Regions from separate parts of the Homo sapiens genome. Here region 1 is reported to be linked to region 2. The links are microRNA targets in miRTarBase. Many come from high-throughput screens and were not tested one by one. Region 2 holds a microRNA gene; the other region holds the end of a gene's coding sequence.
What was found. Region 2 holds the annotated microRNA hsa-miR-3689a-3p (CUGGGAGGUGUGAUAUCGUGGU, at 5,231-5,252, shown strand). A microRNA usually pairs through its seed, bases 2 to 8, with sites in the 3' UTR of a target mRNA and lowers its output. Matches are read on the target gene's strand: a 7mer-m8 pairs with bases 2 to 8, a 7mer-A1 pairs with bases 2 to 7 and ends in A, and an 8mer does both.

Region 1 (7,000 bases), not on the chromosome of region 2:
CTCAAAGCAGGATGGGGGAGGGCATGACTTCTAGGCCTCCCTATTAATCTGGTTGCTCTTTTCATCTTTGGCCATGGAAAATCTCCTTCTTGATCTTAGATTGGCCACCCAAATCTGTGCTCCACACTATTCATTAATTTGATCTCCTCAAATACAGCTGCAGTCCATTGCCTTTGAATTTTTCTTCCTTTGCTGCATTTGTTAGAATCAGACTCTATCTCTCTCAAGGTAGGAATCTTTTTATTCCATATATAAATCTTTTGGGTGGTCATGTGTTGATATCAGAATTTAAAACACCTAACTTTATTTATAAAGGTATTTTTCACCTTTAAGTGGCTACAGTAATCAAAAAAGAGGAGGAAATGTCATGTGTCAAGAATACAGTATTTTATATGCATGAGTTCACTTATCTTTCAATGACCCACAATGGAATCTTGTTCCTGTTTTAGAGATGTGGCTCAAAAAGAAAAAGTGGTCTGGCTGGAATTTAAAGTTTTGCTGATGTCAAAAATCTCATGGTCTTTCCTTATATTTTCTGCCTCAAATTTGTATTGGAAACAACTGAGAGCTGAATCCAAGTGATTCTGATTGTTAACTCCTTTACAGTTTCAACATCATAAAAATCAAACTCAACGGCAAGTCCAGTGTAAATTTATCAAACACATGCTATGGATAATCTAACTTTAAAGTAAGGGGAAAATATTTTGAGAAGGGATTAGGACTCCAGATTATAAGTTTGACATGGATCCTTTAAATTAGGTTGTATCATAGAGCAGAGGTTTTCAAACTTTCTTGATTGTTTGTACCCCTAGGCCAAAAGCAGCAGCTAACCTTCTGTTTAAATAGGTAATCCTGACAACTGAATAAGCATTTATATCCTACTATCTTATGAGAACCGTTTGAAAAAATAATACATGTAACTTAGATAAAAATATTAATATTTTATTTCATATTAATTTTACTTATTAATGGCAGCTGTGCATCTGTTGGGTACAGCACCCCTTCTCAAACCTTGGACTATGATCACAATTTTCACTTCTTGTTCCACATTGATTTTCACTTGATACTTGCTTTTTATCACAGCAATTGCTGAAAATCCAGTTTTATAAAGACATGGTGTCATCAAAATTTGTGAAATCTAACGTTGAAAACTGTGAACTATTTTGAGCTGGTAGTTGGCCTGGTATCTGACAGATGTTGCTGTGTTCCCTCCAAAAATTTAAGGAATCCCAGGGTGCTCCTGTGAATGTGCCACAGCATCCTGGGGTGCCTGGGGGGACCAGCAAACCTTTTAGAAAACGTACATATTCATTTTTTATTGTGAGTATTTAAGGTGAACATGTATTGATACACATATACACAGCAAAATGGTGGCTACAGTCAAGTGAATTACCATACCCATCATCTCATATGATTACCTTTTTTGTTGTTGCTGCAAGCCTTAAGAATATCTTTTCTCCTTTTCTTTTTCTTCCTTTTCTCTCCCCTCCTTTCTTCTCTTCCCTCCCTCTCTCTCTTCATTTTTTTCCTATGTTTGTTTTATGATGACAAACCCTCTTGAAGCTTGATTTGTAACTCTAATTCTCCCTCCATGACATCTTACAATATACACTGAAATTTTCAACCTGGAGTGAAGTCAGTAGAAGTAGTATATGTTTTGACTGAATGACATATGGAAATCTGATGTTTAGACACATTTTCCCAGCAACAAAGCAAAGTTTTAACCCAAGAATTCTTTACATTCTCAAACTGACTATCTCATGCTGGGATGATAAGAAAGGAAGCAGGGATGATAAGATGAAGCAGGGACAATAGAAAGGAGGGAAAGAAAGAAGGAAGGAAGGAGGGGGCAGGGCAAAGAAAAAAGCTTGATTAGTAAATCTTTATTTAAAAAGTATATCAAGTACCATGCACATTCTTGGAGCAGGACAACACAGACTGAAAGGCTGAAGGCCCCCAAGCTCAGGCATCCACAGGATTGATCCTAAATGTGTATCTGTTGGCACAGGTCAAGTTTAAGTCAAAGATGGGACAGAGGAGCAGGAGGAGTTTACAGAAGAGGAGTATATGCTTTGGAGTCAGGCTGTGTACCAGTCCTGCCTCTAAACTTAAGAGCTCTGTGCCTCTTGCACAAGTTACTTAGTCTTTTGAGTTTTAGATTTTCTTCTCAGTATGATGGGAATCACAATACGTATCTCAAAATTTTTTCTTCAGGACTGATTAACACCTGTTAAGTGCAAAGTATAACATCCAGTGCATTTCATTTAAGGACTAGACAGTTAATGGTTGTCAATATTATCATTACTATTAAAATAGGAATGACTTGTGGAAGGGAGACAGCAGAGACAAGGTCTGCTGAAGAATATCTAAGGTCCAAAGAGAAAAAATAGTGGGAGAATGACAGAATTCATGTCAACTGCTGGTGGGGATGTAAATTGGTACAACCACTTCAGAAAACCATTTAGCAGTATCTAAGCTGAACATATGCAAATGCTATGACCCAGCAATTCCACCCCTAGACATGTACTCCTCACATCATCACATAAACACTTAACAAAACGTGTTTATAGCAGCATTATTCATAATAGACAAAAAATTGGAAAGAACTCAAATGTAGAATGAACAATGTGGTGTACTCATACACTGAAATACTATTCAGCAATGAACGTGAAGTAATTACTGCTCACACAATAATCTGGATGTGTCTCACAATCACTGTAGAACAAAAGAAGGTAGACATGAAATAGTGCATACTACATGATTCCACTTATAGAAAGTTTAGAATCAGGCAAATCAATCTGTAATGTTAGAAATAAGGATACTGGTTACTCCTTGCGGGGCAGACTTAATGGCTAGGAGGGTACATGGGGAGCCTCCTGGTGCTGGCTACAATGCTTGCTCAGTTTTTAAAAATCCCTGTATCCCTATGATTTATGTCCATTTCATATGTATGTTTTATTCTAGTAAAGAGTTTAAGAAAAAAATTGGCCAAAGCATTGAAAAGATCACTTCATAGGTTTCCTTCTCAGCAGAGAAGTACACACACACACACACACACACACACACACACACACACCCCTTGATACTAATGCAAAGCATACAAAAGCATACAAAGAAAACATAACAATTACATTTACAATCTGCGGGTCAAGCATCCTATCACGGCTGACACTTCGTATAAATCAGGTTACGAATGCTACGGCTACGACCCCCAGATGCCGGTGGCTTAACACAACCACAATATATTTCTGGTTCCTGATGCCTATGTAGCACATGCTGGCCAGGAGCCCTACTCAACTGTACTAACTCAGGGACCCAGGGTCGGGGAGGCGTCATTCTGACATATGGGTCCAGGATCACCACAGCAGTGGGAAGAGCACACAGTAAACCGTACACCAGCTCTGAACATGTCTGCCCCGAAGAAGGACGTGACCCTTCCGCTCACATTTCACATTTCGTGCCTAACTTCAGCGGGGCGGGAGAAGCGCAGTTGCACTGTGGGCAGGAAGGAGACAGGCTGGAAAAGTAACAGCTCTACTCATGATCACACTTGCTCCCGTGGTTCCCAGACTCAGCCCCATTCAGAGTCCAGGGCTTAAGAAAACTGTTTTTAACTTGCACTGCATCCTTCTCTGCTCTCTCCCTCCCCCTCCCTAGAGATGGAGGTCACAGGGGGAAGAAAAACCCTGGATTTCCAGAACACTGCTACCCCTCTCACCAATTGGTCGCCAGTATGGAGACTGATTTCATGAAGGTCCAGCGTCTGCTGCGGGCAGTGACCTCGGTCCCTTTCTGGGTCAAACGGCAGAGTGAAGCTGCAGCCAAATTGAGGGTAAATAACAGTCACAGCAGGAAGTAGGGAGAATCCTGTACAGCTGAAACGATCCTTGAGGATCCCTGCCATGGTAGGTGAGAGCAGCAGGGGGGGAATTTGGATGACTGGGTGTATCATTCTCTTACAGGAAGAAAAAAATGAAAAAAGGCGAGGACAGCATAGAGCTAGAAGGGAGGAAATAAACAGATGAGGGAGTGAGGAAAAGAGTAGGGAAAGAGAAAAGGGAGGTAGAAAAAATCCTTTTTGTCTCCAATCAGTTACAGGTGTAAAGCTTTCTCTATGTCTGATCTAGTGCAACTCTAGGCTTTGGATGGCATTTTTATCTCTGCTAGGTTTTTGTTAAATGAGCACCACACTGGAACCCACTGTTTATTAACAAAGAAATGACTGCGTAGAGCTCAAGAAGGGAGGCACATGGTAGGTTCTTGTCCTCTTCTCATTCCTGCTAAGAAGTGAGGGGTGCTCCCAAGTGGATGTTTCACTGCAGGACTAGAAGCAGCACAGGAGGATTTTTGCATTCTAAATGTGAGCACCTCTTAGAAGCACATACCAGTTCCAGGAGAAATGTACTAACACTAAAAGCATATATATTTTATAATTTACCAACTAGGACATGACTGAATTTTAATTTGGGTTCCTTAAAAGACACACAAAACACAAACATTTTGAGTTAAATGTAAGAGCTGAAGAGGGGTATGGGTTTCGAGATGGAAAATATCCTATGGTAACTACACGGTACCTGGTTTTCCTGTACCTATGCAATCCAAATAAATTCTCAAAAACATAGGATTTGCTTAGTATACCAATTCTATTTATTGTTAAAGAAAGAAGTCACTTCACTTAGTAAAGACCAATGATGGCAGGTAGAAATAAAAACATTTAATCTGGGCTGGGTGGAGTGGCTCACGCCTGTAATCCCAGCACTTTGGGAGGCTGAGGCAAGAAGACTGCTTGAGGCTAGGAGTTCCAGGCAAGCCTGGGCAACATAGTGACACTCATCTCTACAAAAAATTAAAAAATTAGTTGGGCATGGTGGTATATGCCTGTAGCCCCTGGCTATTAGGGAGGCTGAGGTAGGAGGACTGCTTGAGTCCAGGAGGTCAAGGCTGCAGTGAGCCAAGATAGTGCCATTGCACTCCAGCCAGGGTGACAGAGTGAGACCTTGACTCAAAAAAAAAAAAAAACAAAAACAAAAAAAAAACCCCAATGGATCAAAAATGTGAGAAAATGGGCACAATTAGTTTTCGACAAATCCAGTTTTCCAGTTTCATATTTCACAGAATGTTGCCAGGAGTCCTTTAGCTGGCAGACTCTCCCCGTGCATTCCAAAAGCATTCAGGTTCCCAGAACAGGTTTCTATACACTTTTCAGGAACACATCTGCTGTGAAAAATACAATGTTTGTAGCACTGGGACTCCAAACAAAGCCTGAAGGGGAAGATGCACTTAAAAATATTTATTAAAGAGGCCGGGCGCAGTGGCTCACGCCTGTAATCCTAGCACTTTGGGAGGCCGAGGCGGGCGGATCACTTGAGGTCAGGAGTTCGAGACTAGCCTGGCCAACATGGTGAAACTCCGTCTCTACTGAAAACACAAAAAAATTGTCTGGGCTTGGTGGCGCATGCCTGTAATCCCAGCTACTTGGGAGGCTGAGGCAGGAGAATCGTTTGAACCCAGGAGGCAGAGGTTGCAGTGACCTGAGATCGTGCCACTGCACCACTCCAGCCTGGGGGACAAGAGCGAAACTCCATCTGGAAAAAAAAAACAAAGAAAAAGTTTATTAAAGATAGAAAATTCTTCCACATGAGGAAAAGATGGCCAGAGCCACTGTACAATTAGGTTCTGACTTAAAGATTAGAGATTGAAACAAACAGAAAAAAATGCAACCGCTTGCATTTCTTGCTAAAAGTAAACCAAAAGCAGTTTAATTTGAAGGATGTGCTATGGTAGCGGTGATTAGGTTTTAGGTCAAATAACCAATGGGCCCAACTCAATGTGAGACAGGGGGAGCCTCATTAAGAAGAGTGGCTGAGAAGGAGGCAGCATGACCAGTACAAATTATTGCCCTTGGAGAATGGAGATGTCGCTTTCCTGTTCATTGAAGATTTTAATTAGAAATGTATTCTTCTTTATAGATGTTTCCATTAGTTGTATTCTAATTATAGACCTTGACAAAAAAAGCAAAAAGAAGACCCAGCAGAGCCAAGCCCACGGACATCCTCAGCGCACAGTCTTGATGTAGCCTTGGCATGGGCAGCACCATTCTGGAACTCGCTGAGTCACACTGAGATGCAGCAGAGGTGTGGGATCCTGAACTCAGCTGGTTCCCAAGCCCATTTCTGAAGTCCTATAAAGAGAGAAACAGAGGAAAAAATTATTTTTAGATGCAGAGAAAGCCCTGTTGTGATATCAATCAAGCAATGGGTTCCAGAAGGTGCCGCCTTTTATGTACTCCTTCAACAGAGACACGTTTGAACACCCACCATGGGCCAGGTGGCCCCAAGGTAGGTATGAATGAGTCAGTTCCTTTCCTTGAAGGGCCAGGCCAAGTTCATGACTCCAGACTACACATAAACTGTATGAGAAAGACGGGCCGTGTTTATAGAAAATCAAGGCAGAATTCATGAAGGGTAGAATCTGTGTAAAGTGGAGTCATACCACAGACATATTTAACTCTTAGAGAGATGCAACCATATCTTCTCAGCAATGGAAGAATGACAAAGAAACACCATGGGCCAGGTGTGGTGGCTCACGCCTGTAATCCCAGCACTTTGGGAGGCCAAGGCGGGCTGATCACTTGAGGTCAGAGGTTTGAGACCAGCCTGGCCAACATGGTGAAACCCCGTCTCCACTAAAAATATAAAAATTAGCTGGGTGTGGTGGCAGGTGCCGGTAGTCCCAGCTACTCTGGAGGCTGAGGCAGGAGAATTGCTGGAACCTGGAAGGTGAAGGCTACAGTGAGCCAAGATTGCGCTGCTGCACTCCAGCCTGGGCAACAGAGTGAGACCCTGTCTCAAAAACAAACAAACCAACCAACAACCATGGAAGCCATGATTCAGCAAACACATCCCTAGGACAAAGATTCCCAGCTGGTCTGCTGCCACAGGAGGGCTGCGCCAAGAGTGACCCACCCCACATAACCCCACACTCAGTCCCCTCAAAGTAC
Region 2 (7,265 bases):
GCCAGCACATGGTGAGCAGCACTGGTGTGATTGAGTGCATGACAGTTGCTGGGGCCCTGGGAGAAAGCGTGTCCCAGCCATGAACTCATCTGACCCTACAAGCTGTGGAAGCACAGTCTGTTTTGTGGATGAGGGAACCAGGCAGCCGGACATCTCGCTTCTGACCCATCCCATGCATGAATGTTTAAGAAACACACTTCAGGTCCCAGAGTTGAAGAGCACACAGGCATCGACACTCACGCCTCCCGAACCCTAAGCAGGCTGACACAAAGCTGGCACCGCTGCTCCCCAAGCTGCTCCCTCAACCTTGTGGAGTCCCCTCCCCTTGAATCTGGGCTGGGCGTAGTAATTTGCTTCCAACCCACAGAATATAGCAAGGGACATGGAGCATCCCTTCTGTGATTGGCATAAAAGATGGTGCTTCCATCTTGCTAGCAGACTCTCCTCTTGTGGTTGTGATGGAGCAGGTGGCTGTGCTGGGAGGTCCACATCATAAAGAACTGAGGGTGGCCTCCAGCCAACAGCTAGTCACCACCTGAGGCCCTCAGTCCAATGGCACTCAAGGACCCGAATGCTGCCAACCACAGTGAGTGAGTTTGGAAGTGGAGCTCTCCCCAGATGAGCTCCGGATAAGACCCCAGTCCTGGGTGACACCTTGATTGCAATTTTGGGGCAAGAGGGATCCCGAGGCAGAGATCCTCTGAGATGTTTCTGGATTCCTGACCCTCGGAAGCTGTGAGATGACACACAGGTGTGGTTTTGAGCCTCCAGGCTTTGGGATCATTTGTGATACAGCGGTAAAGAACGCAAGCACAGAGCAGGCTGCCCTTATATGATCAGTCTCCCACCTTTAGGAAGAGTCTTTGAAATCATCCCGACCCTTCTAAGGAGCATTCAGTCTAGTGGCTTCTAGTTTTAAAATGAATTTGAGAAAGTCCCAAAGGGTAGTGAGATTCTTGCTCTGTTAAACATGTCAGTTCTCAACAGATGTCGGGGAATTAGGCTTCTCCCAAACCTACGTGATTTCCATTTGCCAATTGGAAAGAAAAAAAGCAAGATGTTTGGGGCAGAAAGTGCATGTGGCTTTTGTGGAAGTATTCACTCCTGGGATATTACTAGAAAGTGGTGTTTTCCTGGCTGGGGTACAGAAACAGTCCCCAGTCTCCAAGAGAGGCTACTGGGTCATCACAACCCAACCTGAGTCGAGCCAAGGCAGCCTGCAAGTTCTCCCAGCTTGGGAGGGGAGCTGGCAGGAGGGGAGGAGGAGCAGGCCCAGTCCCTCCATCCCCTGCCATCTTTCCCAGGCTGAGGGCATGATGGGGACAGCCCACAGAGCTGGGGATGGTCTCCCAGACCTCAGAGTCCTTTGGAGACCTGGCCATACTGGAAACACAGGCTGTGTGCCTGAGCCTTGTATGTCTGGAGGGGCTCTCCTGGGGGAGCAGCGTCCCCTTGAACACTGCTGGGAGGTCAGGATGGGCTTCCCAGGGCCCCTGGGCAAGGATGGGGATGCTGCTTTCTCATCTTGCAGGCCATTTTGTCAGGGGAAATCTGGACAAACATCCATGCCTCCCATGCCTCAGTGGTCACCCCAGGGCTGTGGGACCTTGTCGCCGGGTCTGCTCTTCCCATGTACTACAGTTGCACATCCACCACCCCCAGACGGCCACATGGCCTTCCTGGACAGCCTGCCTCACTTTGATTGGATCCTCAGCCTGTTTCTTCTCCTCTGTTGAAATTGCTCTCGTGACAAAGTCTCATTTGTGAGATTGTTGGATCAGAATGAATGGCTCCCTTTTATGCTCTGGGTAGTTTCATTATATTAGAAATATTTAAATCTGACTCCCACATCTCCATGCAGTGGTATGTTTCCTATGATATGTATGTAAAATATATGCTTATGTTTTATGTCTGCATCTAAAGCACCCACTGTTTGTTACATGGGCACACCTCCAACTCCACCTAAAGCACACACGATGCTACCTGCGCACACCTCCAACTCCATCTAAAGCACACACAATGCTGCCTGTGCACACCTCCAACTTCATCTAAAGCACACACAGTGCTGCCTGTGCACACCTCCAACTCCATCTAAAGCACACACAATGCTACCTGTGCACACCTCCAGCTTCATCTAAAGCACACACATGCTGCCTGTGCACACCTCCAACTCCATCTAAAGCACACACAATGCTGCCTGTGCACACCTCCAACTCCATCTAAAGCACACACAATGCTACCTGTGCACACCTGCAACTCCATCTAAAGTACACACAATGCTACCTGTGCACACCTCCAACTTCATCTAAAGCACACACAATGCTGCCTGTGCACACCTCCAACTCCATCTAAAGTACACACAATGCTACCTGTGCATACCTGTAACTCCATCTAAAGCACACACAATGCTACCTGTGCACACCTCCAACTTCATCTAAAGCACACACAATGCTACCTGTGCACACCTTCAACTCCATGTAAAGCACACACAATGCTACCTGTGCATACCTCCAACTCCATGTAAAGCACACACAATGCTACCTGTGCACACCTCCAACTCCATGTAAAGCACACACAATGCTACCTGTGCACACCTCCAACTCCATGTAAAGCACACACAATGCTGCCTGTGCACACCTCCAACTCCATCTAAAGCACACACGATGCTACCTGTGCACACCTCCATCTCCTTCTAAAGCACACACAATGCTACCTGTGCACACCTCCAACTCCATCTAAAGCACACACAATGCTGCCTGTGCACACCTCCAACTCCATCTAAAGCACACACAATGCTACCTGTGCACACCTCCAACTCCATTTAAAGCACACACAGTGCTTTGTGCGCACACCTCCAACTCCATCTAAAGCACACACCATGCTACCTGTGCACACCTCCAACTCCATCTAAAGCACACACAATGCTTTGTGCACACCTCCAACTCCATTTAAAGCACACACAGTGCTTTGTGCGCACACCTCCAACTCCATCTAAAGCACACACAATGCTACCTGTGCACACCTCCATCTCCATCTAAAGTACACACAATGCTACCTGTGCACACCTCCATCTAAAGCACACATAATGCTACCTGTGCACACCTGTAACTCCATCTAAAGCACACACAATGCTACCTGTGTACACCTCCAGCTCCATCTAAAGCACACACGATGCTACCTGTGCTCACCTCCAACTCCATCTAAAGCACACACAATGCTACCTGTGCACACCTCCAACTCCATCCAAAGCACACACAATGCTACCTGTGCACACCTGTAACTCTAAAGCATGCAGAACGTTGCATGTGCACACCTCTAACTTTATTCAGTGTGGTTTCCTTCCCTCTTCAGGACGTTTAAGTAGTTGACTTCATTCAGCTGCAGGCCCAGCCCGCTGTGGGCTCTGACGGAAGGCCCTTTCCTGCAGAAGTGCGGGTGTGTGGGGACGGGTGGGGCTACTGTCTCCATGCCGCTGAAGTGAAGTGAGCTCCAAGTGTAGCCGAGCAGAGAACCCTATGGGGTGGGGTGTGGGACCTCACACACTGCAGGTTCTACCACCACCTCCCCGCGGGTGGCTTGGCTTAGAAGGCCTAGAGGTGGACCTAGAATGCGTACTTTTAGGGGGCTCCCCGGATGACTTCAACAGGCAGCCAGGTGGGGGCCACTGATGGGCAGACACCAAGAAACACCAGGAACACTTCTGCTAAGCGCTGGCCTTGTCCCATTAAGAACCTGTGGCTCCCCTGGGAGGTGTGATCCCGTGCTCCCTGGGAGGTGTGATCCCGTGCTCCCTGGGAGGTGTATCCTGTGCTCCCTGGGAGGTATGATCCTGTGCTCCCTGGGAGGTGTATCCTGTGCTTCCTGGGAGGTGTGATATCGTGGTTCCTGGGAGGTGTGATCCTGTGCTTCCTGGAAGGTGTGATCCTGTGCTTCCTGGGAGGTGTGATATCGTGCTTCCTGGGACGTGTGATGCTGTGCTTCCTGGGAGGTGTGATCCCACACTCGCTGGGAGGTGTGATCCCGTGCTCCCTGGGAGGTCTGATCCCGTGCTTTCCTGGGAGGTGTGATCCCGTGCTCCCTGGGAGGTCTGATCCCATGCCTCCTGGGAGGTGTGATATCATGGTTCCTGGGAGGTATGATATCGTGGTTCCTGGGAGGTGTGATCCCGTGCTCCCTGGGAGGTCTGATCCCGTGCTTCCTGGGAGGTATGATATCATGGTTCCTGGGAGGTATGATATCGTGGTTCCTGGGAGGTGTGATCCCGTGCTTCCTGGGAGGTGTGATCCTGTGCTTCCTGGGAGGTGTGATCCCATGCTTCCTGGGAGGTGTGATCCTGTGCTTCCTGGGAGGTGTGATACCATGCTTCCTGGGAGGTGTGATCCCACGCTCACTGGGAGGTGTGATCTCACACTCGCTGGGAGGTGTGCTATCGTCTTCCCTGGGAGGTGTGATCCTGTTCTTCCTGAGCGGTGTGATCCTGTGCTCCCTGGGGGGTCTGATCCTGTGCTTCCTGGGAGGTGTGATATCATGGTTCCTGGGAGGTGTGATCCCGTGCTTCCTGGGAGGTGTGATATTGTGGTTCCTGGGAGGTGTGATCCCGTGCTCCCTGGGAGGTGTGATCCCGTGCTCCCTGGGAGGTGTGATCCCGTGCTCCCTGGGAGGTGTGATCCCGTGCTCCCTGGGAGGTGTGATCCCGTGCTCCCTGTGAGGTCTGATCCTGTGCTTCCTGGGAGGTGTGATATCGTGGTTCCTGGGAGGTGTGATATCGTGGTTCCTGGGAGGTGTGATCCCGTGCTTCCTGGGAGGTGTGATCCTGTGCTTCCTGGAAGGTGTGATATCGTGGTTCCTGGGAGGTGTGATATCGTGGTTCCTGGGAGGTGTGATATCGTGGTTCCTGGGAGGTGTGATATCGTGGTTCCTGGGAGGTGTGATCTGGTGCTCCCTGGGAGGTGTGATCCCATGCTTCCTGGGAGGTGTGATCCCGTGCTTCCTGGGAGGTGTGATCCTGTGCTTCCTGGGAGGTGTGATACCATGCTTCCTGGGAGGTGTGATCCCACGCTCACTGGGAGGTGTGATCTCACACTCGCTGGGAGGTGTGCTATCGTCTTCCCCGGGAGGTGTGATCCTGTTCTTCCTGAGAGGTGTGATCCTGTGCTCCCTGGGGGGTCTGATCCTGTGCTCCCTGGGAGGTGTGATATCATGGTTCCTGGGAGGTGTGATCCTGTGCTTCCTGGGAGGTGTGATATCGTGGTTCCTGGGAGGTGTGATCCCGTGCTTCCTGGGAGGTGTGATACTGTGCTTCCTGGGAGGTGTGATCCCGTGCTCCCCAGGAGGTCTGATCCCGTGCTTCCTGGGAGGTGTGATATCGTGGTTCCTGGGAGGTGTGATATCGTGGTTCCTGGGAGGTGTGATATCGTGGTTCCTGGGAGGTGTGATATTGTGGTTCCTGGGAGGTGTGATCCCGTGCTTCCTGGGAGGTGTGATCCTGTGCTTCCTGGGAGGTGTGATCCTGTGCTTCCTGGGAGGTGTGATCCTGTGCTTCCTGGGAGGTGTGATATCGTGGTTCCTGGGAGGTGTGATCTGGTGCTCCCTGGGAGGTGTGATCCGGTGCTCCCTGGGAGGTGTGATCCTGTGCTTCCTGGGAGGTGTGATCCTGTGCTTCCTGGGAGGTGTGATATCGTGGTTCCTGGGAGGTGTGATCCGGTGCTCCCTGGGAGGTGTGATCCAGTGCTCCCTGGGAGGTGTGATCCCGTGCTCCCTGGGAGGTGTGATCCCATGCTCCCTGGGAGGTGTGATCCCGTGCTCCCTGGGAGGTGTGATCCCGTGCTCCCTGGGAGGTGTGATCCCGTGCTTCCTGGGAGGTGTGATCCCGTGCTTCCTGGGAGGTGTGATCCCGTGCTTCCTGGGAGGTGTGATCCCGTGCTTCCTGGGAGGTGTGATCCTGTGCTTCCTGGGAGGTGTGATCACATGCCTGCTGGTGATAGAGAGGCACAGCTCCCCATTGGGGAACAACCAGGACCCAGCCCTGGGAGGTGTGGATTCAGGAGGGCCCCAGAGGCCTGCATGAGCTAGTGAGAGCTAGGAGGTGGTGTCCGCACTGGGAGCGGGACCCACACAGAGGGCACGTGGGGTAAGCATCAATGAAGTTCCGGGTGTCAGCCAATTGCACCCTCCCAATGGCCCTGGAGCAGTTGCAAAAGCTTCCTGCTCTCCCATCGTCCCCTTCTCCAACCCACTCCCGAATGCAGACGCCCCTGGCCCTCCTGGGTGGCCAGAGCCTGAGGACACTCACTAGGACAGCCCTGGGCAGCTCAAAGGAGCACTTTGGCCTGGCACAGGCCAGCTCCAGGGATGCCCCCACCTTCCTCCACATGCATGGATCGGGTTTCGTCACCAAGACATCTGCAGGACAGGAGCGGGGCCTCTGGCCACATGGCCAGAGTGCCTCCTCCATTCATGGGTCCCATGTGCAAATGGGCAGACAGGAGCTCTGAGCAGCAGATTCCCCGAGGCCACATGGGGCACTGGTGGCATCTGAGCCTGGGTCGCTGAGGCAGCTGTCCTCAGCCTGGTCTCACCAGGCCACAGCTGTCAGTGGGTAAACGTGTGTGCGCGTGTGTGTGTGCTCCTGCGGCACTGTGGGGGTCATGCCTGTGGCTGAGCATCTCCTGGAATTCTCTCGTCTCACTTTCGACCTCCTCTTCTCAGCAAATCCCATCAACCCCATCTTTGAAACACCTGGAGCCGGAGTGTGACCCACTCTCATGGGTCTGCACCGCCCCCAGCCTGCGTCTGGGTTACTGCCCCGTGTGGCTTCCCTCCCCATCTCTGCTCAGGCCACACCAGCCCCCTCCCACTTCCCCTTCCTCTCCCCACTCCCTCTGGCCTCTGCCCTGCTGTTCCCTCTCCTGCAAAGCCCTTCCTGCCCGCTGGGCTCCAGGCAGAGAGAACCTTCCCAGTGGCCCTGGTCACCCAGGAGAGCACTTCAATCCCCACCCCACACACACTACACACCCCATACACACAGGCACACACACCACACCCACACACACACTATACAGACACAGCACAAACCACACACACAGGCATGCACACTATACACATGCAGCACACACCACACACACAGGCACATTCCCCACAGGCACGCACACATATACCATACACACGCCAGCACACACACCACACAGGCACATGCACAAACACCACCTCCACACACAGGCATACACCACACACACACACACCACACACACCACACACACAGGCAC

Region 1: miRTarBase lists CDKAL1 as a target of hsa-miR-3689a-3p. Seed matches in the 3' UTR shown: 8mer at 5,476-5,483, 8mer at 5,339-5,346 and 8mer at 4,761-4,768.

Annotation. Positions count from the first base shown.
Region 1 is chr6:21,230,029-21,237,028 of GRCh38, reverse strand. It overlaps CDKAL1 (CDKAL1 threonylcarbamoyladenosine tRNA methylthiotransferase), which reads right to left. Exons shown (of 16, transcript NM_017774.3): 16 at 4,625-6,181. The coding sequence ends at 5,990. LOC107986578 (a long non-coding RNA gene) reads left to right here and starts at 5,970. Exons shown (of 2, transcript XR_001744021.2): 1 at 5,970-6,338. RefSeq lists an enhancer at 5,609-6,808.
Region 2 is chr9:134,847,481-134,854,745 of GRCh38, reverse strand. It overlaps MIR3689A (microRNA 3689a), which reads left to right and starts at 5,182; the gene lies at 5,182-5,259. MIR3689C (microRNA 3689c) reads left to right here and starts at 5,377; the gene lies at 5,377-5,448. It overlaps MIR3689D1 (microRNA 3689d-1), which reads left to right and starts at 5,064; the gene lies at 5,064-5,137. It overlaps MIR3689B (microRNA 3689b), which reads left to right and starts at 4,474; the gene lies at 4,474-4,621. It also overlaps MIR3689D2, MIR3689E, MIR3689F and LOC101448202.